7 linked regions of the Homo sapiens genome follow. The protein of the gene in region 1 purifies or fractionates together with the protein of each later gene. This does not show direct contact. Each region holds a gene or a part of one and is shown in the gene's direction. Other genes may lie near its edges.

Evidence for each region.
Region 2: the proteins of PDCD6 (region 1) and KCTD15 purify together in Homo sapiens (affinity purification with mass spectrometry, with the first as the bait; one large-scale study listed by BioGRID). This does not show direct contact.
Region 3: the proteins of PDCD6 (region 1) and HNRNPUL1 fractionate together in Homo sapiens (co-fractionation; one large-scale study listed by BioGRID). This does not show direct contact.
Region 4: the proteins of PDCD6 (region 1) and ARID1B purify together in Homo sapiens (affinity purification with mass spectrometry, with the first as the bait; one large-scale study listed by BioGRID). This does not show direct contact.
Region 5: the proteins of PDCD6 (region 1) and TFG purify together in Homo sapiens (affinity purification with mass spectrometry, with the first as the bait; one large-scale study listed by BioGRID). This does not show direct contact.
Region 6: the proteins of PDCD6 (region 1) and CHERP purify together in Homo sapiens (affinity purification with mass spectrometry, with the first as the bait; one large-scale study listed by BioGRID). This does not show direct contact.
Region 7: the proteins of PDCD6 (region 1) and MAP1B purify together in Homo sapiens (affinity purification with mass spectrometry; one large-scale study listed by BioGRID and IntAct). This does not show direct contact.

What each region holds. Positions count from the first base shown.
Region 1 is NC_000005.10:306,146-309,645, forward strand, and holds part of PDCD6 (programmed cell death protein 6), read left to right. Parts: intron 1-456; coding exon 457-615; intron 616-3,500. UniProt on the Homo sapiens protein: Calcium sensor that plays a key role in processes such as endoplasmic reticulum (ER)-Golgi vesicular transport, endosomal biogenesis or membrane repair.
Region 2 is NC_000019.10:33,799,870-33,803,369, forward strand, and holds part of KCTD15 (BTB/POZ domain-containing protein KCTD15), read left to right. Parts: intron 1-558; 5' UTR 559-585; coding exon 586-651; intron 652-1,297; coding exon 1,298-1,473; intron 1,474-3,500. UniProt on the Homo sapiens protein: During embryonic development, it is involved in neural crest formation. Inhibits AP2 transcriptional activity by interaction with its activation domain.
Region 3 is NC_000019.10:41,302,372-41,305,329, forward strand, and holds part of HNRNPUL1 (heterogeneous nuclear ribonucleoprotein U-like protein 1), read left to right. Parts: intron 1-293; coding exon 294-578; intron 579-1,600; coding exon 1,601-1,890; intron 1,891-2,958.
Region 4 is NC_000006.12:156,783,878-156,787,377, forward strand, and holds part of ARID1B (AT-rich interactive domain-containing protein 1B), read left to right. Parts: intron 1-3,500. UniProt on the Homo sapiens protein: Involved in transcriptional activation and repression of select genes by chromatin remodeling (alteration of DNA-nucleosome topology).
Region 5 is NC_000003.12:100,729,994-100,733,493, forward strand, and holds part of TFG (protein TFG), read left to right. Parts: intron 1-2,514; coding exon 2,515-2,679; intron 2,680-3,500. UniProt on the Homo sapiens protein: Plays a role in the normal dynamic function of the endoplasmic reticulum (ER) and its associated microtubules. Required for secretory cargo traffic from the endoplasmic reticulum to the Golgi apparatus.
Region 6 is NC_000019.10:16,521,938-16,525,437, reverse strand, and holds part of CHERP (calcium homeostasis endoplasmic reticulum protein), read left to right. Parts: coding exon 1-196; intron 197-2,147; coding exon 2,148-2,386; intron 2,387-3,500. UniProt on the Homo sapiens protein: Involved in calcium homeostasis, growth and proliferation.
Region 7 is NC_000005.10:72,187,475-72,190,974, forward strand, and holds part of MAP1B (microtubule-associated protein 1B), read left to right. Parts: intron 1-3,500. UniProt on the Homo sapiens protein: Facilitates tyrosination of alpha-tubulin in neuronal microtubules. Phosphorylated MAP1B is required for proper microtubule dynamics and plays a role in the cytoskeletal changes that accompany neuronal differentiation and neurite extension.

The sequences.
Region 1 (3,500 bases):
ACCAGTGCTGTGGGCCCTGGAGAGTCAGAGGGTCAGCTCTGGGAATTAGATTCGCGTTCTAGGCCGAGACCCAGGAGCCAGGGGAGCTGGGGCCACTTACCTTCCCCGTGCCTCGGAAGCTGAGTGTGAAGCTCTGCTCTTCTTTCTGTCGTGGCTGCGGCTGGATTTCCTCACACATCCCATTGCACGGCCTGCCTCACAGCTGCAAGTGCACCTTCTCCTGGGACTTAGGGGGTCAGGGCTGGGGGACAATCCCCCACACCCCCACCCAGGGCGAAGGTGACAAGACTTTAAGGGATTTCACCCCATTCACAGACAGGCATGCATTGCCCAGTCCCTGGTTAGTGGTCAGCAGTGGGGCCCCGCCAGGCTCTGAGGGCTGAGGTCTGGTGGGAAGCCTCAAGTGAGTTTGCTGCAACTGATCTTTTGCTGCTTGACCGTTCCTCTCTGTCTCAGCCATGTTTGACCGTGAGAACAAGGCCGGCGTGAACTTCAGCGAGTTCACGGGTGTGTGGAAGTACATCACGGACTGGCAGAACGTCTTCCGCACGTACGACCGGGACAACTCCGGGATGATCGATAAGAACGAGCTGAAGCAGGCCCTCTCAGGTTTCGGTAACTCACTCACTCTGGCTTGTGTAGCGTGTTTCATTTTGGAACCTTGGAGCCGTTGAAGTTCTTTAAACCTTGTTGGACTTAACTGATTGTCTAACCAGGCTACGTAAAGTTTTTGTTGACGTCATGCAGGTTCATATTTGATATTGCTCATGTCGGAAGGCGATCCTCGACATGGATACGTTTATTCAGGTTTTTATCCAAAATGAGATAAGGGCTATGCAAGCCGTTCATCTTTTCTGAAGTGGAATGATGTCGTGAGCAAAACTGAGAATGTGGCTTTTGAAATCATTTAAAAGTGGATCCATGAAAATACCGTGGGGCAGGGCAGCTTATATTTCATGATAGATCAAAGCACGTTGAAAAGGCAACAGTCACCTAAGAAACAGCTGTCAGTCACCAGGTCCAAACCGTGCGCCTCAGAAGGGGCGTTAGGCAGAACGCGTGCCCATTCTCAGGTGTGCTCGGCGTGTGTGTGCTCGGCGTGTGTGTGCTCGGCGTGTGTGTGCACACGTGTGCCGTGCGCCTCAGAAGGGGCGTTAGGCAGAACGCGTGCCCATTCTCAGGTGTGCTCGGCGTGTGTGTGCTCGGCGTGTGTGTGCACACGTGTGCCGTGCGCCTCAGAAGGGGCGTTAGGCAGAACGCGTGCCCATTCTCAGGTGCGCTCAGCGTGTGTGTGCTTGACGCGTGTGCACACACACATGTGACGGTGTGCCGTGGGTCTAGGAGTGTTCACAGTGCCTGTCCAGAGTGCGTCCATAGGGCCTGTCCACGGGGCTTCCCGTGCTGCTCTCAGGGCTGAGAGGAAGCAGGGGTTTTATTTACAGAGGAACAACGGGCATGTTTGGGGCCAGCCTGAGGCTGTTGGTGGCTGCACCGAGATTCTAATCCATGCGGATCTCATCTGGCCCCTGTTGTGAAGCCGCTTCCGTGATTTGCTTAAAAGGCTCCTTAGAAACAGTGAGGAAAATTCGATTCTACTTGAGTACCTCCGAGATCCCTGGAGTCTCACTTATCTAAGCACGTCGCCTCTCCTCGTGTTTCCTCCCAGCATGCACTTTGTGGCTGCCTTTCTTTCTCTTTTCTTTCTCACCTTACGAGCTTGTCCACAGGGCCGGGGGTGGACACTGGGTCTCCTCAAGAAGCAGTTCTGAGCTGACCAGCTGCGAGCCAGGATTTGGGCTGGATGGCTCTGAATTGGTACTTGGAATGCAGCTGACCTTGCTGTGCCCTTGGGTGGGGGAACTGGAGGGAACGCTGGCCGGCTCCTCTTCCCTGGGGCAGGTACGGAAGGGCTGGGAGGGAAGGATGCCACCCTCCACAGAGAGTGGTCCTGGGGGCCAGGGAGGCCAGTGCTGCCGATTGCGGCCAGGGCCACGTGGACTTCAGGACCGGCCTGAAGTTATTTTTAGATAAGCGACCTCTGGCGCCACGGACATCTTTTCCTAACCTTGTCAGGCCCTGGAGCTCCCTTTGTCCATGCCAGTGACCATCGGTCCTCAGAATGTGCAGTGGAAGTTGCTGTGGACAGTGCTCCCTGGTCTCTGAGGCCCTCTTCGTCCTGGTCTGGCCAAGGACTTCCCAGAAAACTGTGCTTAGCTGTGGCGGGAGGCACGGCCGGTCACGCAGCCTTCCTCCCGCCCTGGAGTGGGCAGGCCTGCTTGTGTTGTGCAGCGGCAGAACCCTTCCTGACTTCCAGGTTTTTCCTGGGGTGCGGCATCCCATCGCAGCATTTTCTCTGGTTACCCTCACGAGTTTCCTCCTGCGTTTGGTTCTTGATCTCCAGGGCCATCTCCCACGTCTTCCTTGGAAAGGGGCATTGTCATCCTTTTTGTATTTTGATGATTTTGAAAGATTTCCCATAGTAACTGTTAGGAAGTTGGCCTCAGAAGCAAAAATTCTTCTTTTGTCTTGGCCCCTGTGAACAAGTGTTCTGCTCTCAGATGAAGCAGGGAGGCTGCACTGGAGCTTGGTGGCCAGCAGGAGGGAATCACCAGGGTGGTGAAGCCTGCGAGATTTCTCCCCGGGTGTCTCTGATGGGGCCACATGGTGGATTTCATAATCCACCGATTCGTTTTTTTAAGCCTTTATTGTTAACATCAACTGTGTGCCATGCTCAGAGACCTGAAGTGAAAAGGTGAGGAAGGCGTGCTCACATTCCAGCACTCACCACCCGGCACCGGGACAGCTGACTCAGCACGTGCCGTTTAGGTTGCTGTAAACAGCCGGTGAGATTCTCCCCTCTGGTGGGCAGTGCGTGTCTGACAAAGGCAGTCGGGCGGAGAACAGTTCCTCCGCTGTGGTCCTTTGCCACTGTACCAGGCCCCCAAGAGCTGGGGGGAGCCCCAGGGAGCCTCAGCCTGTTGAGTGGGGGCAGCTGGTTTGTCCTCCGAGGTGGAAGAGGTGATTTCTGAGGAGGTCATGCTCCGCTTGGCTCGTTCACAGCATTTCAGAGAGTCCGAAAGAGGAGAAAGACCTTGGCAAGGGGTGTGTCAGGGGTGGGCCCAGGGACGCTGGTGGCCTCATGTGGACTGACTTTCATGAACAGAAACTCAGAAACAGTTGCTTCTGGATTTTGGCTTCTCAGATAAACATTCTTTTTGTAGTTCGTTTGTTCATCCCTCATTTTGCTGTCTGACTTTGCCTTTCTTTTCCCTTCACTATTACTGATGACCAAGGAAACTGGAAGTTAATTCCAGAGGCAGTGGGGTTGCTCCTGTTGTCTGTGCAGACTGGAGTTCCTCTGCCTCTGTCAGCATCTCCTCTGTCCTTCCCCAGCCTTGGCAGGAGACCAGTAATGACCTCTGTCCCCGTGCACCCCAGTGATGGCCGCCGTCCCCGTGCACCCCAGTGATGGCCGCCGTCCCCGTGCACACCAGTGAGGG
Region 2 (3,500 bases), on another chromosome or scaffold:
TTGCCCTCATCCATGTGCCTGGACTTCTGCTGAACGGCTTCCCTGTGTCTGGCCAGATGCAAGCTGTATCTTATCACCATGGGGATGGTATTAAGAGAGGTCCTAGGTTCCCTGGCCCATGGAGGGTGAGGGGTGCTTTCTGAGCCTTGGTCCACAAGGCTGTTGCAAGAGGAGACACGCTTGGTAACATGGCTTGAAAGGAAAATACCAGGAAAATCTGGTTTGTTCTGAAATATTTTGGGGCAATAATGGTGAGCATATGTTTCAGTGCTGTCATTAGCCGAATTAGCAGACATGGAGCTGCCCAGAAAACACATGTGTGAGTGTGACTGTGTGTGTGTGCATGTATGTGTGTGTCATCTGCTACAGCCTGGAGGCCTGCTTTGGGGTGTGGAGACAGATAGAGAGATAGTGGCGGTGGAGTCAATCAGGGAGGGCTGCATGGACCTCGCAGGGTCTCAGAGAGCATGCAGAAAGGACAATTCTAAGTGTCTTTGACCCCATGGTACATGACTAGGAGGAATAAGCCTTCTCTGGTTTTGTCGATGCCTCCCGCAGATACTCTGGGCAGGGATGGAAGCCTAGATGCCTCACCGCAAGGAGCGGCCGAGCGGGTCCTCGCTTCACACACACGGCAGCACCGGCACCGCGGTGAGCCTGCAGGGTGGGCTGGGTCCCTGCCGGGAGTTCCCTCTTTCCCTTCTTCCCCAGTGCCTGTTTACTGGCTGTCCTTCCTTGGGACCATGACACTCCAGGTGGCTGTTGACTGGCTGTAGGATTATGTATTTTTGAAACAAAAATGCTCTTAATTTGATGTGAAATTTACTACATGTATAAAACTCAACGCCTTAGGTGCTGAGGAAGTCACTAATTTAGAGGTGTCTCGTTACTGAGACAAACTTGCAAAAAACCCCTGAATCCCAATTCACAAATTGGTGATTCGTTTGTCAGGGGATATTTCACATCTAACACATAAGCCCACGACCTTTAATTAGAATTTTGCAGTTTGTTTTATGCCCCTGGAGGCTGACACCTTGAAAAATTTTTTTTCTTGATTTCTTATTGCTAATAAGCATCTTTCTTTTTCCCTCTGGTACTTTGAAGAAAATGATGCAAATACACTTAATTACAGTGGTGGCCATAATTTGTCAGCTGAATATATGATCAGGCACGGGCAGAAGTGATCTGATTAGATCTGTGATCACACTCTCAATAAAGGGAGTGCATGGCTGTGTTGTGGAGAAACTCTTGTGTTCCGCTTTGAAACTCTTGTGTTCCGCTTTGTTTCCATCTCTAGGAGGGAGGAAACATGTCCCGGCTGTCTCTCACCCGGTCGCCTGTGTCTCCCCTGGCTGCCCAGGGCATCCCCCTGCCAGCCCAGCTCACCAAGTCCAATGCACCTGTGCACATCGATGTGGGCGGCCACATGTACACCAGCAGCCTGGCCACGCTCACCAAGTACCCTGACTCCAGGTAAGAGTAAGCCCCTTGAAACATCAGGCATGTGTGGGTCAGGGCAGCATCTGTAATCTGCTGCCTAGGGGGTGGGGTCTCTCCCCACTGTCACTCCACCCACCAGGGTCTCCAGGGTGCACAAGCTGACACAGCCTGAGGGAGCTAGGGTTGGGGAGTCCAAGTCTGCCTGTTGAAAGCTGCTATGCACAGAGGCTTGTGACCCTGACTTGGCGGCATTGGTAGTGCAAGGTGGAGCTCCTGACCCACCTGCAGGGGACTAGGGCTTATTCAGAGCCAGCCCAGCCTGAGCCTGCCGGCAGCGGGCAGGGGAGTCTCACGTACCTTCAAGGTTCCTCTGGAGGGAGACTTAGGCCCGGCCCCTGCAGGGGGTCATTTGTGAGTGATACTGAGTAGGTAAGTCTTGGGGGCATGGGGGTGGGTATTTAATCCTATTTTCTATTCCACCCCTGGGAAATTCACAAGGGGAGGGAAGAGGAGCTGTGGTGAGCTGCAGTGTGCCATCTTTGTCATTTTCCGTGGCCACTGCTGGGCCCTAGAGGCTAGCAGCAGGCTTCCCTTGGAGCTGGTGCTGCAGTGACTAGCTAGGAATGAATCACATACCTCATCAGTGGATAAAGGGTCTCTGGCCAGGACCCTGGTTGGGGGCTCACAGGCACCCTCCATGCTGCTGAACTTATAGGCTGCCCAGGCCCTTGGGCCTGCGAGAGGTTTGGGGTGCTGGGTGCTGCCAGCTCTCCTGCTCTTCCTTGCAGGGTGTTTCTCTCCTGGGTGAGGGACCTGCTTTCCCCGTTGGCACGGCAGCAGGGCTGACCCGAGTAGGGTGGGTCTTGAGCAGCTTGCTCAGCCGAGGATGTTTGCTCCTGGCACAGAGAGGCGGTCATCGCTCCCCTGGGGCTGCTGAAGGCTGAGCGTGGGAGGGCCAAGGCTGTGGGCATCACCCCTGTGTTATGCATTTGAAATAACAGGAGGAGTTAATTAATCCCCCAGATACTGAGGGATCATCTCTGGGGAGCATACACGGCAGGCTGCATTGTCACCGGTGTGGTTCCTCAGAGCAGGGAGGATGGTAGTGCGCAGAGGTGGCTTTCCAAGCCTGTTGGGGCTGCAGGGGAGCCTGTGCAGGTGCAGGCATGGTCCCTTGAGGAGGAAAAACTGGAAATGGGTGCAGTGTCTAGTTCCAAATTTGGAGAGTCTAGGGTACAGATGGTGACTGGTGTTCCAGTACCCCAGGTGGACAGAGACTCAGCCTGGGGCCCTGTGGCCTTGGGGCTTGTGGGGTGGGGACAAGAGCCACGGGGCCAGGTCAGCAGTGTTGGCCTGTGTGCTCACTCACAGAGCCCTGTCTAGGATGGGAGATAGATTCTGCTTATTTAATTTCCATTTTGCCTTCTGCGGCATTTCTGAGTTGTTTGAGATAGATCATCCCTTAATCGGTTGACGACGTTTGTGAGTGAAATTCATAAAACCTTTGCCCACAACCCTCTCTGAAGAGTTTCCTGAAATCAGAGAGTTGCCTGTCTGGAGTAATCACAGCCCAGGCCCTGGGGGAGGCGGGTGGGAGAGGCTTCTCATTCTGGGCTCTTGGCTGCTGCCTGAGAGCAGGAGGGCAGGGGGCCATCTCCCCCCACCCAGCCCCACTGTGCTGCTCACCCATTGCTTTGTTCTGCTGTGGGATGTGCTCTCATGGGGAGCTAGGGCCCCTGTGGCCCTGTGATCTGGCACTTGGGACCCTCCTGGTGTGCCCAAGGGGTGGCAGTCTATGTTTATTCTTCCCCAGGGCTGGGGCTCAAGGTGAATCTGTTGTTCTGCCTGGATGGCCTCTGGCTGCTGTGGGGGTGCTCTGTAGGCCTGAAGCTTTGGACTAGAGGCCAGGGATGGCTGACCTGCAGGACAATCAGGGGACAGGAGGCCAGGGGGCCTGAGAAGTGGGTCAGGCAGCTGTGCTGGCAAGAGCCCCTCAGATCTCTCTTGTCCTTCCTGTAGTGGATTATTATAATATAAGCAGTTTTCTACCAATTCTGGAA
Region 3 (2,958 bases), on another chromosome or scaffold:
CCATGCCTGGCTAATTTTTGTATTTTTAGTAGAGATGGGGTTTTGCCATGTTGGCCAGGCTGGTCTTGAACTCCTGACCTCAGGTGATCCACCCGCCTCGGCCTCCCAAAGTGCTGGGATTACAGGCGTGAGCCACCGCGCCCGCCCTTCTGTCTATGTCTTTCTTATTCACTATTCCAGTTTTCTTCACCTTCTCCCTTCTGGAAGGCCACTCTTCTGGGTGGAGGGGACCAGACTTCAGAAGGTACTGACCTCTTCTTCTTGTTCTCTTTGGGGCACTTCCTTCCTCCTAGCCAACTTCACGTTGCCAGATGTTGGGGACTTCCTGGATGAGGTTCTGTTCATTGAGCTGCAGCGGGAGGAAGCGGACAAGCTAGTGAGGCAGTACAACGAGGAAGGCCGCAAGGCTGGGCCACCCCCTGAAAAGCGCTTTGACAACCGAGGTGGTGGTGGCTTCCGGGGCCGCGGGGGTGGTGGTGGCTTCCAGCGCTATGAAAACCGAGGACCCCCTGGAGGCAACCGTGGCGGCTTCCAGAACCGAGGGGGAGGCAGCGGTGGAGGAGGCAACTACCGAGGAGGTGAGACATCTCACACACAGCACTCTCCACTTTCTGTTCCCAGGTTGGGGCTGGGCTTTGACTGCTTATTCAATCAGCAACTGAAGTTTTCTGAGCTCCAGCTGTGAGTTATACTCTGGTAGAAAACTTGAAACAAGTCAGACACGGAGACCTCAGAAACGCTCCCACTTTCCCACTCCCTGGACGCTGGTTATGAAGCCCTTTGCCCATTTGCATATCACAGTGCACATTCTGTCACATTGCTGTCATTTTTGTGAACCTTCCCCCATCTGACCATGAGCTCCTTGGAAATAGGATCTAGATCAAAATCTATTGGAAATGGGGGCTACATCTTTGGCCAGGTCTGAAGAGGACTAGATGTGACTCGTTCATGGCTGTCACCAGTGCTTAGCTTCCTCTCATTTTTTTTTTTTTTTTTTTTGAGACGGAGTTTTGCTCTTGTTGCCCAGGCTAGAGTGCAATGGTGTAATCTCGGCTCACTGCAACCTCTGCCTCCCGGCATTCAAGCGATTCTCTCGCCTCAGTCTCCTGAGTAGCTGGGATTGTAGGCAAGCACCACCACGCCCGGCTAATTTTGTATTTTTAGTAGAGATGGGGTTTCTCCATGTTGGTCAGGCTGGTCTTGAACTCCTGACCTCACGTGGTCCACCCGCCTTAGCCTCCCAGAGTGCTAGGATTACAGATGTGAGCCACCGCACCCTGCCAGCTTCCTCTCCTTGAGCATCTCCTTCCTGCATATTCAACAGCTATTGAGATGCTGGGACACAGAAACCCAGGACTGCCTTGGTCTCTGCCTCACCATTCTTGCAGTCCAGTGAATGAGACAAACCTGTCATAAGGGCTGGGACAGGGGAGTATGCCCGGGGGTCTAGAGAATCCCAGAGGACATGCTTTGTTGTTCACCTTGAGTTCTTGCTCTGCGCCTGGCCATGCCGGCTCACAGTAGTCACCAAGACAACCCAGTTCCCTGGGGTTGCCATTTGGGAATGATGGCGCCTTTCATCTGGATTTCTCCAACACAGGTTTCAACCGCAGCGGAGGTGGTGGCTATAGCCAGAACCGCTGGGGTAACAACAACCGGGATAACAACAACTCCAACAACAGAGGCAGCTACAACCGGGCTCCCCAGCAACAGCCGCCACCACAGCAGCCTCCGCCACCACAGCCACCACCCCAGCAGCCACCGCCACCACCCAGCTACAGCCCTGCTCGGAACCCCCCAGGGGCCAGCACCTACAATAAGAACAGCAACATCCCTGGCTCAAGCGCCAATACCAGCACCCCCACCGTCAGCAGCTACAGCCCTCCACAGGTGAGAGAATGAGTGTGTGTTTGTATGTAGTGATCGCACGTGTGCTTTTGAACCTGAGCAAGTTAGGTGGAGGCGGATCTGGGGAAATCAACACATGCCCCAGCTACTGGTCTTCACTCTAACCTCTAGCCTGCCCTTCTTTCTCCCTGGCCGTGATCTTGACTCAGATGGACCCTACACATTCCCAGATCCCCTCCAAACCCAGGAGTAAATGTAGACCTTCCCAGAACCTGCTCTTCTCCCACCACCCTCAAGGGGATGGGCTGTAAGCACTGATCCCTCCAGCAAGTACATTATTCTTGGCTAGTGTCACTAACCTCACTAAATCCCCAAGAAAGCACTTGACTGGAGTCACCCCTTGCCCAGGCTGGCTGACCTCTTTGTCTTTTGGACATAATAACCAGGGCACTAAGGTTGCTGAGGACTTGCCCTCTGCACAGAGAGCTTCAATCCTGAGCAGCTCCAGGCTCAGTTCCCATTCTTGGAAAGCCAGTGCCCTGGCTCTGGTATGCACAGGCTCCTGTAAACCAGAGAGGTTTTCAGTTATCGCACAGCCATTTCCCAAGCACTTTCCTCATGCCGGGCCTGGAATCAGCTGCCAGGAGACCAATGGATGGTTCCCAGGCCCAGCTAACTAGAATATTTCTTAGAACAAGAGTTGGGCAGGCACAGATCCAAACCCCCAGCCCCACAACATCCTGTTTCTGTGAGCTTGGACAAATAGCTTCCCGTCTCTGGGCCTCATTTTCCTCATAAAGGTGTTAGTAGAAGTCCCTTCCAAGGTTTGTTGTGAGGAATGGGTGGCACTATAGCTCTGGGACTAGGCAGACCTGGGGTCAAGTCCTTTTTCCTTGGCCCAGAAATTTCATCTTGAGCCTCAGTTTCTTTCTCTTTAAAATGGGGCTAGTGGGACCTACCCCTAGGTTCTATATGGAGATTATATGATGTAATGATCCAACCTGTACTTGGGAAGCACTTAGTCAATTGCCACTACTGTTTCTCAGCAGATCTTCCAGTAACAACTACCACCACCTGTTGAGTACCCAGTGGTTTATACACACAAGCTTA
Region 4 (3,500 bases), on another chromosome or scaffold:
GGACTGATATTTCACTCGTGTCACTTTTGTTTTGGAGTGTATGTGTAGATTTGTAAATTTGAGATTGATATTTATGTTTGATAGAAGTGTGGTGTGTTGCATAAAATGACAGATTTATGGAGGCTGAAAATATTAATAAAACTTAATTCCATTTTTTTTTTGCAATATTTAGGTTTTCCAGTTGGATGTTATAAAATTTTTATGACATTTTACACTGCTGTTATTACTCAAGGGGCCGTATCCACCTCTTAGGCCTTTTTGGGATTGGGTGGTTTTGGTTGCATGCCTTTTCGGAGGTGCCCTTTCCTGAATGGGAGGGAGGTTTTTGCAGGTTCTCTGTGGATATGTAAAGTAGTGCCGCACGCTTGCTGTGTGTGCTTGCTTGAGGCTGAGGAATCCCAAACCCTGTTCCCTGTCGTGTCCGGGAGAGGCACCAGGCAAAACTGTTCCTCTACCAAGAATATATTTCTGTATCATAGATGTAGAACTATTATAAATATCTTTTCTCTAGCTTGGAGGCTATTTGAATGAGACTCAATGGCCCTTTTGGTTTAATTGGGTAATTGAGTGAATTAATTCTGATCTAAAAACTTGGTGTACTTTAGCAACTTTTTCTTCAGGAAATTTGGTAAAGATAAAATGACTTAGGTATCAGTCATTACCTGAGTGTCCTAAGTATTCATTTGTTTTTCCTTATACTGACATCTGAATGAATGGAATGATAGACATATACTATATAGTTTTAATTAGCAATTCACTTTGAGTGAGTGAATTTTTTCAGAGTAGAATATGTGTTTCCACTGTAAGTTTTCACTAAATATGTTCTATTTTCAAAATCTTTGACTTGGAGTAATTCTAAGAAAATTCTTTCCTTACATTTAGTTATTTGTTTTTCTTTTTGAGACAGGGTCTCACTTTGCCACCCAGGTTGGAGTGCAGTGGCGCGATCTTGGCTCACTGTGGCCTTGACCTCCCAGATTCAAGTGATTCTCCTGCCTCAGCCCCGCAAGCAGCTGGGACTACAGGTGCACGCCATCACACCTGGCTAATTTTTGTATTTTTCGTAGAGATGGGGTTTCGCCATGTTGCCCAGGCTGGTCTCGAACTCCTGACCTCAAGTGATCCACCCTCCTCGGCCTCCCAAAGTGCTGGGATTACAGATGTGAACCATCCTGCCAGGCAAGATTTACTTACTTAAATAGGATCCAGTAGGCAGTTTTCAAACCCACATCTGTATGGATCAATGCCAAGAATATTAGAAGGCTACTGAGTTTGACAGATGAACTAATGATGAAATTAACTTGTTTCTTGGATGAGATTTATTACCAGGCACCAGACTAAAGCCCTAAAATCTTAAGCCTATCTGGTTTATGAATAGCTACTCTTATTTCCATTATTAAAATCAGGTAGATGGCAGCAGAATCTGGAGGAGATTCACCCTCTGTTGACCATCTTCTGTAAGGTGCACTTCTCAGTGTCTTCCTGGGCCTTGATGAATGATGAGCTGGAGAACTAGACCAGAAGCCATTCCTTATCAGGTGACTCTGGAAGGGAAGCCATATTTGATGAAATCCAGAAGAAATCCTGGACCATAATGCTACATTTTTTCTTTTTTTGTAATGGGATGCTAAAAAATTAAATATATGGTTTTTTTTTTAAATAGAGGTAAGCTATACGTACATAACATACAACTTACCATTTGAACCATTTTTAGGCATACATTCCAGTGGCATTAAGTACATTGTCATTGTTGTGTGGCTGTCACCATCATCATCTATCCCCAGAACTTTTCCTTCTCAAACTGAAATAAAAATATTTTTCTCTTTCTTTTAAAATTGTTAGCTGCTAATGTGTATTGTAAGTAAAATAATCTTGTTTTTGTAACCATTAATCTTATCACTTCATAGTTTGTGAGTAAATTCTTCCGCAGACATTCCATCAGGATGCTAATGGTTTTTTTGTTTGTTTGTTTTTGTTTTTTATTAGTACATTACTTCCTCTCAATTCTAACTTTGGGGTAATCCTCATAGAGTTTGAGGATCTCTTTGGAGATGTGTATTACAAAGGTTAGTAGTTTCACTGCCAGTTATGTTATTAAAATTTTGAAAAGCAGCTTTTTGGAACCTTTCTAAAGTTTAAAGGTTGAGGGTATTTGTTGAGAGAAACCTGGGACTTGGTTAGATAATAGGGTGTGGAAATGAACTGTTACCATTCTCACTTTTCCCTTGCTTTTCTTCCCTCACCTTTTGCATTTGTAGTCTCTTAAAAATTATTAATTTTATTTTCCCACTATTAGTGAAAATCATTTATAGTGATATTTTTTTCTATTCTTTCTGTGTTTGAAGTTTCTGGGCATCTCACCCCTACCAACCCAGAGCAAACCCAGAGTCTAGGTGGTGCCATGTCCTTTTCCATAGTGTTCTCTGCCACCAAATTTGTGCCTCCCCCTCATGTTTTTACTTTTTAGTCCTCTGCAAAACTTCAGAAATTCTTTGTATGTGGAAAAATTACTAAATTAAGATGATTGACCTTTTAGAATTACATTTTAAAGGCAGCTGTGAAGGGAGACTTCTAGATCCTGCCTAGTCTCATGAACAGGCGTCTTTGGTTTGTGTAAGGTATTGGAATTGTACTGGAATTGCTGCTGATGCTGATAGGTAGTCACATCTTTGTAAGATCAGTTATGTACTTTAACACCAGCTTCCACAGAGAGGAAATGAACTGTTACTTAAGAGCTTGTACTGGGAAGCAATAGTTATTTCTTTAAGGTGTAAACATTTAGCATTTGTGTATGCAGTGAGGTATATGTTAGATAAATATCTACTCCAGACAGTCAATTGGCAAATATTTATTGAGCTCCCACTTTCTTAATCAGCCCTGTGCCAGAGACAGACAATAGCTGGGGTCTGGGGATTGCTGCTGTTGGTGTGCGGATCATGCAGAGATACTGCTAACGCTTGCTCCCTCCATACCTGGATCGTGGTATTGCTGACATCATTGACTTAGAACTGGCTCATTTAAACAAATTGCAGATAGCAACCATGTGGGTCAGCAGTCTATTTGGCCTGCTTTTTTTTTTTTTTTTTCCGGTGGGGCAGTATATTTTGGCAAAACAAAATCTGGTCAACAACAATTGTAGGTTGTTGTGATATAGTTGATGTGATCTAGTGACTCTTTTCCATTTCTACCAATCAGTTACTGGCTTTGTGCCAGAGCGAAATATAGATTCACTACCGAGAATAATAACTAAAAGAAGGAAAATATAATCACTTTCAAATTTATATAGAATGGTCCTTTTTCTTTTTCTCAGTTTTCTACATTACATAGATTCTTGGAAAAAAAGTTAAAACAGTCTGTTCAGATTTAGGAAGATACTTGGATTGCTGGGGTATTTTTGGTAACTGTTTAGATAATGTATGCTGGCTGAGGAGTAAATTCAGCTACTGCTTCTGGGTCCTGAAATAAACCTTTCAGAAAGCGAGGCATTGATGATTAGTGGA
Region 5 (3,500 bases), on another chromosome or scaffold:
ACCTTTTATATTTCAGGTCAAAGAAGGTTGCCTATTCTGAGCCCTACCTCTCCAAACAAAAATTTCCAATTTTAGATCAAGAATCAATGAAAAAGTTAGACAATTTTTCCAGAAGAATTCATAGATGCTGACACAACATTTGCATATAATTTCAGGGGATTTAACCATCTGCAGAATATTAAGAAGTGTAGATGAGAATTTAACCAGTATAGCCAATACTGTTCAGAAATTAGCTACAGTGGCCCACATTCTACTCTAAGGAATGGATTTATGAGTTTTTTGCTTTAGGTGAAACTTTTTCCTCACCTCTTTCTTGCTACTGTTTATACTTTATTCTTTGTGTCTATATTTTTTATACATACTGTTAGCTTTTTACCTATGTTAATGTAAAAGGTGTTAAAATTGGTTTCTTCTCTGCATTTTGGAAATCATGCCATATGTTGTTTTCTTGTATGGCCATTTTCTAGTTATTGTGTCCTGTCTGACATATCTGATGATAAGATGATATAAGAATAATACAATCTGCATTATATTTTTAGAGATAGTTCTTATTTTTTTAGAAAACAAAAACAACAAGAAAACCATACATCAGAAACTGAAATCTAGTCCACAAAATGAAATTGCCAATCAGCTATCAGTGCTATTTAGAACCTGTGGCTTACCCTCACCAAGAAATGTGGCCACCTGTGGTCTTCAGCTCTCTATTACAGCGGTTCTTGGATGCTTGTTTTCCTTTAAGAGGCAAATGATGTGTAAACTACCTTAGATAGAAGATTGACCTGTTGCAGTATCTCCAGCAGCTAATGGAGCAAGTAGTAGGACGTATAGTATGTTTCCTGATGGTTTTAGTTTGTGATAAGTGAAAAGAGGCATAGGTAGTGAGATGTGAGGGGAAACAACTTGTAAGACTGACGTGGTATGCTCTTGGGATTAGAGGAAGGAAGTTGGTAGGGAAGATAGATAACTGGTAGACATGTTTTAAAGGAATACTTCTAGTAGTAGTTTTCTTTTTCCAAACATTTAGAAAATATTAGGGTAGCCTGGAATGGTATGTTAGGAATGAATGAGCTGCCAGCCAGTGTGTGCTGTGGGTACTTATATTCGGTTTAGCACTTAACATTTTTTTCAGAAGATACATTTTGTATTGATTACAGGGGTGATCTAAGAACTGATGTTCATTTACTTGCTTGGTAACAAAAGTGATAATCATTGTCCCTTAATTGAGTAAATGGTTAGCAACAGTCTTTTTGTTTACTTGTTCGTGTTTTTTGTTTGTTTCTTTTGATGTCTTTTGTATCTTGGACTTGGATTCCTATTTGTAAAATGTATGTTAAAATTCTTGAACTCTTTTTCTTTCACAAGACAGTAGTATAAATGCCTGTGGAATATCTTAGTATCCTGAGAAGAAAAGCATGATTTTAAATTTAACCTGCTCATAATATTTGACATTTTGTTTTTCTGTTGTTGTTTTAAACATTTTATTATAGAAAAGTTTAAGTATATAAGAAAGTAGACATTATAATGAATCCCAGAAACCCACATCCAGTTTCAACAGTTACCAACTTATAGTATCATATAATTACACTATACACATTTCCGCCCCTCCTGTTACCCAGAGTGGAGTACAATCTCAGCTCACTACAAACTTTGCCTCCTGGGTTCAAGTGATTCTCGTGACTCAGCCTCCTGAGTAGCTGGGATTACAGGCATGCATCACTGTGCCTAGCTAATTTTTGTATTTTTGGTAGAGATTGGGTTTTGCCAGGCTGGTCTCGAGCTCCTGACCTCAAGTGATCTACCCACCTCGGCCTCTCAAAGTGCTGGAATTACAGGCATGAGCTGTTGCACCCGGCTCCCCTCCTGTATTATTTTGATGCAGATCCCATATACATCATTTCATCTGTAAGCATTTTAATAAGTATTTTAATAAGTAATACATATTAAAATAGAAGGTAGCAAATTCAAAAATGTTTTTAATGTGCTATTTATGGAAGATTATGAATTAATTATGGTTGGCTTGATTTCCATGTAATTTAATAGTGGACCAGTAGACAGTAGAAATAAAATGTAAAATTTGAGATTATAACCTTAGTTCAGTTTCTTTTTATAAAATAAAGCCTTAGTTCCTATAATTATTATTTCCAGAGTGCCCAGTGGGTATCTGATACTAGGATATAGGTTATTGGGCTCCAAAAAAACCAAAAAAAGTAAAATGTTTCTCTTTATCAAGGAGCTTGTATTTTTTTCATCTAATGTTTCTTACAAAAGGAGGTAAATAATTTTTTTGGAAAGCTTTTGTTCATCTTCTGTTTCTTTTTGCCCTCTTCTCCCTGTTACTAGAAGGAAAAATATAAAAAAAATAAAGGAATTAAAATGATCTGTAATCCTATATTCCGACATGCTTAACATTCCAGACTATCATTATACACCTGCATTATTTCCCTTGTACTTTTAGGCCTTACTGAATATAGATAAAAAGGAAACAAGTTTTTGTTTATTCCTCTATTTTTACAGATACTGTGGATGGTAGGGAAGAAAAGTCTGCTTCTGATTCTTCTGGAAAACAGTCTACTCAGGTTATGGCAGCAAGTATGTCTGCTTTTGATCCTTTAAAAAACCAAGATGAAATCAATAAAAATGTTATGTCAGCGTTTGGCTTAACAGATGATCAGGTTTCAGGTAAGTTGGTTTCCAACTCCTTTACACCCTTCGTTTCCTTCATCTTTCCGTTCTTCCCTTTCCTTCTTTCTTTAATTGAAGAATAACTTGGATATGGTGAAGTGCACAAATCTTAAGGGTTCTGCTTAACAAATTTTTACATATGTGTACACTTATGTAAAAGACTAACTAGATTAAGATGTAGATGATTTCCAGCACTTCAGAAAGCTTTCTTATGTCCTCTCCCCAAGAGTAGCACCCTCCCCCTTAAAGAATAAGCACTGTTGGGTTCAAGTAAATTTTTGAAAGTAAAATTTAGAAAGTTTTTAAAAATCTGAACTATTTTATAATTTGATTAGTTGCAGTATTCGAATTATATTTGATTTGTCTTATCTCCTCATCTTAGAGAAATTGAAAATTAAATGTAGATTTTCTTGTTAAATTGCTTGAGTATACAGTGGGTTTTTATATAAATAAGTTTTTAACCTTAAAGCAGTACCTATATTGTTTTATTCTGTTTAACTTTTGGTTATAATTTCTTCATTATTTTTTCCTGCTTTTTCTCTTTTCGGATTCTAATAACACATACATTGGAGAGCTTGATACTGTCTCATGGGTCATTAAGGTTCATTTTTCTTCAGTCTTCTCTCTGTTCTTCAGGTTGGGTGATTTCTGTTGAACTCTTCAAGGTCGCTGTGATTTCTAATATGCTGTGGAACCTTTCTAGTGAATTGTTTAATTGTGCTTTCAGCTCTAGAATTTCCATTGGGTTTTTATAGTTTCTGTTTTTCTGTTGAGATTCTTTATTTTACATTCATTAAGTCTATATTTTCCTTTAATTG
Region 6 (3,500 bases), on another chromosome or scaffold:
ATGCAGCGGCCCCCACACTTCCGGGGGCCCTTCCCGCCCCACCAGCAGCACCCGCAGTTCAACCAGCCTCCGCACCCCCACAACTTCAACCGCTTCCCGCCCCGCTTCATGCAGGACGACTTCCCGCCACGGCACCCCTTCGAGCGGCCGCCCTATCCCCACCGCTTCGACTACCCCCAGGGGGACTTCCCTGCCGGTGAGTGTACGGGCGCCTGGGTAGGGCCTGGCGGAGGCATCCACGGCTCGCCTGCCGAGCAGGCTGGTGGCGCTGCTTGTGGCCCTGCCATGCTCCTGAGTGCACAGTGACAGACACAGGGTCATGGGACGTCCGAGGAGCCCGGCCTGGGTTCTCAGGAAGTGGGGGCACAGACTCAGTTTTGCCGCCCTGATGAGGCCCGGCTGGCTGCAGATGAGGCAGAGCCAGTAGGAAAAGGTTCCTGCCGTGGGTGGGCGTGGCGAGGGCAGGGCGGGGCCTCGTTCTTTTTACTGCTGCTGCTTGTTTTTTGCATCAGTTTTCCCGTTGTATTAGTTCGTTTAAAAAATCAATACTTGGCGTGGTGTCGGGCGCCTATGGTCCTAGCTGCTCAGAAGGCTGAGGTTGCGGTGAGCTGTGATCGCACCACTGTACTCCACCCTGGGCGACAGACCGCTGTCTCAAAAAAAAAAAACAAAAAACTACTTTTCTTTTTTAAAAAAATTTTATTTTATTTTAAATAGAGATGGGGTCTTGCTATGTTGGCCAGGCTACTTTCAAACTCCTGAGCTCAAGCAGTCATCCCACCTCAGCCTCTAGAGTAGCTGGGTCTACAGATGTGAGCCACCATGCCTAGTATCTTTGTTATTGATTTTATTTCTAATCTTTTAGTACTTTTTTTTTTTTTTGAGACAGAGTCTCACCCTGTTGCCCAGGCTGGAGTGCAATGGCACAATCTCAGCTCACTGCAACCTCCGCCTCCCAGATTCAGATGATTCTCCTGCCTCAGCCTCCCGAGTAGCTGGGATTACAGGTGTGCGCCACCATGCCTGGCTAATTTTTTGTGTCTTTAGTAGAGACAGGGTTTCACCATGTTGCCCAGGCTGGTCTCGAACTCCTGACCTCAGGTGATCCGCCCGCCTCGGCCTCCCAAAGTGCCGGGATGAAAGGTGTGAGCCACCTCGCTTGGCCTTTTGTTGTTGTTGTTTGTTGTTTTTTTGAGACTGAGCCTCACTGTCACGCAGGCTGGAGTGCAGTGGCACAGTCTCGGCTCACTGCAGCCTCCTCTTGGGTTCAAGTGATTCTTCCACCTTGGCCTCCTCAGTAGCTGGGATTACAGGCATCAGTCACTATGCCCAGCTAATTTTTGTATTTTTAGTAGATGGGGTTTCGCCATGTTGGCCAGGCTGGTCTCAAACTCTGGGCCTCAAGTGATCTACCCGCCTTGGCCTCCCAAAGTGCTGAGATTACAGGCGTGAGCCACCATGCCCAGCCTTCTCTCTTTAAATACATTTCTGATTATAAATGCAGCTTGAAGACCGCTTGGCACATTTATTGCTTTTACTTTTTGGCTTGGGCTGACATGATAAGTCCCACAGCCTGGACGGCTTCAACAGCTGGAATGTATTGTCTTAAGGATCTGGGGGCTGGAGGTCCAAGGTGGAGGTGTGGCGGGTTCAGGTTAGTGTCTTGGAGGCCTGTCTCCTTGGCTCATAGGTGACCGTCTTCTCTCTACATGTCTGTGTCCTAATCTCTTATTATAACGGCAACAGTCACGTTGGATTCGGGCCACTATGGCTTCATTTTAACTCATTTGTGTCTTTGAAGGCTCTGTCTCCAAATACAGTTCCGTCCTGAGCTACTGGGGGCTGGGACCTCAGCGTATGGATTCGGAGGGTCACAACTTAGCCCTCACCGTGCAGTTTTGGGGTTTTGGGGTTCTCTTCTCTCAGCCTCAAGCTCCCTCGGCTGTGCCTATGGGTGCGGGACAGGCCCCTCGGAGCCTGGCTCCTCGGTGCCTTGCTGCCTGGTCTTAAGCAGTGAGAGAAGATGCTGGACAGGCTCCCAGGAGGGGTTCGTCTCCTGGCCCTTCACTGAGCCCCTCCCCTCCAGCACTTGTCGCCTGGGAGATCCTGACTGGCCTGTGGTCCTGAGGCAAGTCTCTGTTTTGCAGAAATGGGGCCCCCTCACCACCACCCTGGCCACCGCATGCCTCATCCTGGCATCAACGAGCACCCGCCTTGGGCTGGACCCCAGCACCCTGACTTCGGCCCTCCCCCCCATGGCTTCAACGGGCAGCCCCCACACATGCGGCGACAGGGCCCACCCCACATCAACCACGATGACCCCAGCCTGGTCCCCAATGTGCCCTACTTCGATCTCCCTGCTGGGCTGATGGCCCCCCTCGTGAAGGTAATGCCCCACAGTGGGCTCCAAGCTGAGCACGCTTACCATACTGGTCCCCGTTTCTCCTTGTGAAAAGTGAATGCACGGGACCGGGTGCCTTCCGGGGCTCCCCTTCATCTCCCACTCCCTAGGGACCCTGATCCGTCAGTGGGAGGTGCCGAACCGGAGTAGCACGGTGTGGCTGTGAGCGACACCATGTCTGCCCTGCCCTGCCCCTCCTATCCCTCCCACCACAGGGAGCTTCAGCCATGTGGGGCTAGCTAGGCTATGAGGCTCGAGTCCTCTCTTCGTCCTTCTTGGTCCAGGGCCTCAGAAGCACCTTGTCCCAGGGCTGCTGATGGAGGGAATGTCTTAGAAGGAGCCACCTGTGAGCTGTGCCTACCAAGCACACAGGGAGGGGGGTGGCCCTGGAGAAGCCGGGCAGGGCTGGCAGCAGCTGGTACCACTGTGGGATGGCCGGAGCATAGGGCAAGAGGTGAGGCAAGAAGGGGCCAGGTCTGGCCAGGCGTAGTGGCTCACACCTGTAATCCCAGCACTTTGGGAGGCCGAGGCGGGCGGATCACGAGGTCAGGAGATCGAGACCATCCTGGCTAACACGGTGAAACCCCGTCTCTATTAAAAAATACAAAAAATTAGCCAGGCGTGGTGGCAGACGCCTGTAGTCCCAGCTGCTCGGGAGGCTGAGGCAGGAGAATGGCATGAACCCGGGAGGCGGAGCTTGCACTGAGCCGAGATCACGCCACTACACTCCAGCCTGGGCGAGAGCAGGACTCCGTCTCAAAAAAAAAAAGGGGGGGTTGGGGAGGCCAGGGCCGGGGCTTGGGGCCTCCAAGGGCATGCTGGCCACTGCCACTTCCCACCCCCTCAGACACATCCACCTGAAGTCCAGGCAGACTTCACGGAGCCATGGGCAGCAGGGAGAGCTGCGGGCGGGGGCCCAGGCAAGCCAGGCAGGGCAGGGCCTCAACAGGAGGACAGAGACGGAGCAGAAGAAGGATACAGGCCAGGGGGCTCCAGGGCCGGGGCTGAGGCTGTTCTGAGCGGGGGCCCAGGGTAGGCATTGCAAGCAAAGGGTGACGTGAGGGGCCCGCTGCATGTCTGAATAAACCAGAGGGTGTTC
Region 7 (3,500 bases), about 72 Mb from region 1:
ATCTAGCTTACATGTTTATAGCAATTACAGAAACAATTCAGACCCATCCCCATAGCAGGTTGGGGCCTGCCTGTGGCCGATAGCAGATTTCTACATGGAGGGACTGAGGGATGTTCTGATAAGAAGAGTCCCCACATCTGTTTAAAACTGTCTTTCTGAGGTGGTGGCTTGTCTGTCTCATGTGTACTGTGAAGGGCCACGTGTCCTTCTGCACTTAATTTTCCTTGGCCCTGAGGTTCAGAGAAAGCTCTGTTTGTACTTTTCATCACTGGCAAGAACTGTAAGCACACTGCCCAACTTCATCTGAGTCACCTGGAGGCTTCTTTAAAAACACTGATCAGAAGGCATAATAATGTTCACTCTCCAGCCACTGGGGTGGGGAGAATGTAAAACTGTGAAAAGGAACATTTTTGAAGCCACAGCTGTCAGAAGGTGTGGCGTCATCTGCATCTTGAAACACATACCAGGATGGGATCCCCCAGGCAGGCAGCTCCTTTCTCAGAGGCTTCAGAGCTCACTCACAGTTGGTTCATCTTTACCACTTCAAAATGCAAGCTTTGGCTGTGTCTTCTTCCAAGGCCGCTAGAGTTCACGCATCTTGCCTCATTCATCTCGGTATCCATTGCACCTGCACATAGTAAAGGCCTAGTAAGCCGCTGTTCAATTGCATTGAAATTCCAAAGCTAGGGCTACAATTCTCACTCTGCCTACTGTCCTGAAGTTGTTGTTTGATCACTATAATGTCAGAATGTTTTGCAAGATTATGTCCCCATGTGCATGTTGTACCCGGAGGCAGGTGGGCATTTGTCTAGTAGCTCTGGGGTCACACACATTATTAGCATCTTGCCTCAGGGAAGAGAGAAAGCTGCAGAAGGCTGGAAGTGGCCCAATGACATGGTGAGCAGTTAAGTGGCCTGCTTATAGCTCATTTGCATGCACATGGGCACTTTCCACATTCCTGTGCAGTTCTGTAGTTATTTTCTAGTGGTTGGTTTCTACCCAAGTCATTGGTTTGTCTTTTTTGCCGAAAAACCAGACAAAGGAAATATGTAAAGAAAAGTGTCATTGCCAAGATTTTCAATAAGGAAGTAACACGATTTGGCATATTTGCATCTCAAATAATATCCCTCCTTCCCCTTCTTTAAATAAGGTTGTTATGAATATTGCTGCTTAATCATTTTTACTAGATTATGGAAGCAAAATTTTAGCACCATGGACTGTGCACGTGTCAGATTTTGCCACTAATTACAGAAAAAAAAATTTGCCCTAACTGAAGAACTCGAGTTCCGTGGAAGGGCAGATTCCCCAGGGTTTATACTTATTGGGGTAGGTTCTGGAGGACACATATTTTGATTATACTCAGGCAGGTATCATTATGGTCAGAGACCATGTCATATTCTCTTCTGCCACCCACAAAGAAAGGATGCCACAGCTAAAGTGAATTGAAAACCACTGGACTGGACCAGTGGTTATCAGCCTTTTGGAGCTAGGATTGCCCATTGTTGCCTTGGAAAAATGGTTGAGTAACTGAATAACAAACGGACCTTGAAGACCACTTGTTGTCCAGCTCTTTTCCTTTTATCCAGTCCTTGAAACATACTAGTTAACTCCAGGGAAACCAAAACCACAATTTGGGACAAACAAAAATGATACTTTTTAAAAAATATAAGAACAGCTAAAAATAAATGGACTGAAAAAATAGAACTATCAGTACACTTTGAGCTTCAGGTTTTGGAGTCTTAATCACTGGAGATCAATTAACAAAACCAGAACTAACAGACGGTACAATTGTCTGGCTAACCCCACTCCTCCCTGAAATCCAGGGATGGTGAAATCATCATCTCCTGGGGACATTTTTCAGTCTCTGTGTTGGAAAGTTTTTCCTTATTTGTCTCATTGTATCTTCAAGGAAGTGATGTGATCCCTTTCCCACCTACAGTGTCTTAGTTACCCTTCACCAACACTGCCGATTTTTTCCCTTTCAGATTAATCATCTTCAGTTTTACCCACAGTTCTTCATAACCCTGCTCACTGTCCTTCAAACTTGTTCCTCTGTCAAGAAAGGGAGGTGAAGGCCAGGTGCTATGGCCCATGCCTGTAATCCCAGTACTTTGGGAGGCCAGAGTGGGAGGATCACGTGCGGCTAGGAGTTCTAGGTTGCACTCAGTTATAATCTGCACTGCACTCCAACCTGGGCAACAGAGCAAGATTCTGTCTCTTAAAAAAAAAAAAACTATACTTAAAACATTAAAAAAATAAAATAAAAAGAAGAGGAGATGGGATGGGTATGGGGGGAATTCAGGAGTTTAGTCCTGGTCATGTTTTAGTGCCTTGAAATCAGACAGTTGGATTTATGAGAACAGAGCTCAGGGAACTCAGAGTCGGGCTGGAGATACTAATTTGAAATCCATTAGCATATTAGAGGTATTTGAAGCCCAGAAGACACATGATGTGACCTAGAGTGAGAAACATTTTAAGAAGAGAAAGGGCCCAGGTCCAGTGTTGACAGGTCATAAGGCCAAGAGGAAGGAGCCAGTAAGGGAGACTTGTTTCAGGTTTTTGCTTGTTGGTCTAATTTCTCTAAAATGTCATGACTCAAACTGGACACCCTATTCAGGAGTCATTTGACCAGGTTAGGATTGTGAGAGTTGATAATGTCTATAGTTTTCAATACCATCTTCTATTAAAGAAGTCTAAAAGTGACTTTTGACCATCACCATACACCATTAATGGTCAATGGGGAAGTCAATGGGGAAGAGATGCAGGCTTTGAGGGGCTCGACAATTTATATAATTTAAGGGCTCTTTTTTAAGAAAAATGAAACAATTATTAATATACAGTTAAGTACAGGGCCATGCCAATGAGGTACCTTGAAGTTTAAGCTTCTTTGGCTTCATGATAAATCCATTTGACTGTCAACTAAAATCCCTGAGTCTTTTCCATGGATATTATTGTTAAGCCACATCTCCCAATCCTGTAGTTTACCCTGCTGGTTTATTGAACCTTACATTTATCCCTTTAGAATGCCATCCTGTTAGAATTGACTTAGCCACCATCATCCCAATGTCAAGAGCTTTTATAAATACCTTAATTCTGCCATTCCACATTTTGCTGTGTCTCCCATTTTCATACCATGCACAAATATGATATGCATGCCTTCGCCATTTTTATCCAAGTGAATACAGGCCAGAAAATGAGACTTGAGGCAGCCCATCATAGACCTCCCTCCAGGTTGACATTAAGCAGCACTATTTATATGGCTGGCTGGAAATCCACCTAATTCTACTATCACACTGTTCAGGGGTCCTATTAAATGTCTGGCTAAAACCCAGAGATACACTGTCTACTGTATTTCCTCATCAGCCAAGCAAGTAACCTAATCAAAAAGGAAATGTAGTTCGTAGGCCATGGTTTAGAAATTCAAATCTTGTTTCATTAATCTCATCTGCAGTAAAACCATTTATTTCTTACATCTTCCTTCCTCTTCCAGTATGCCTGCA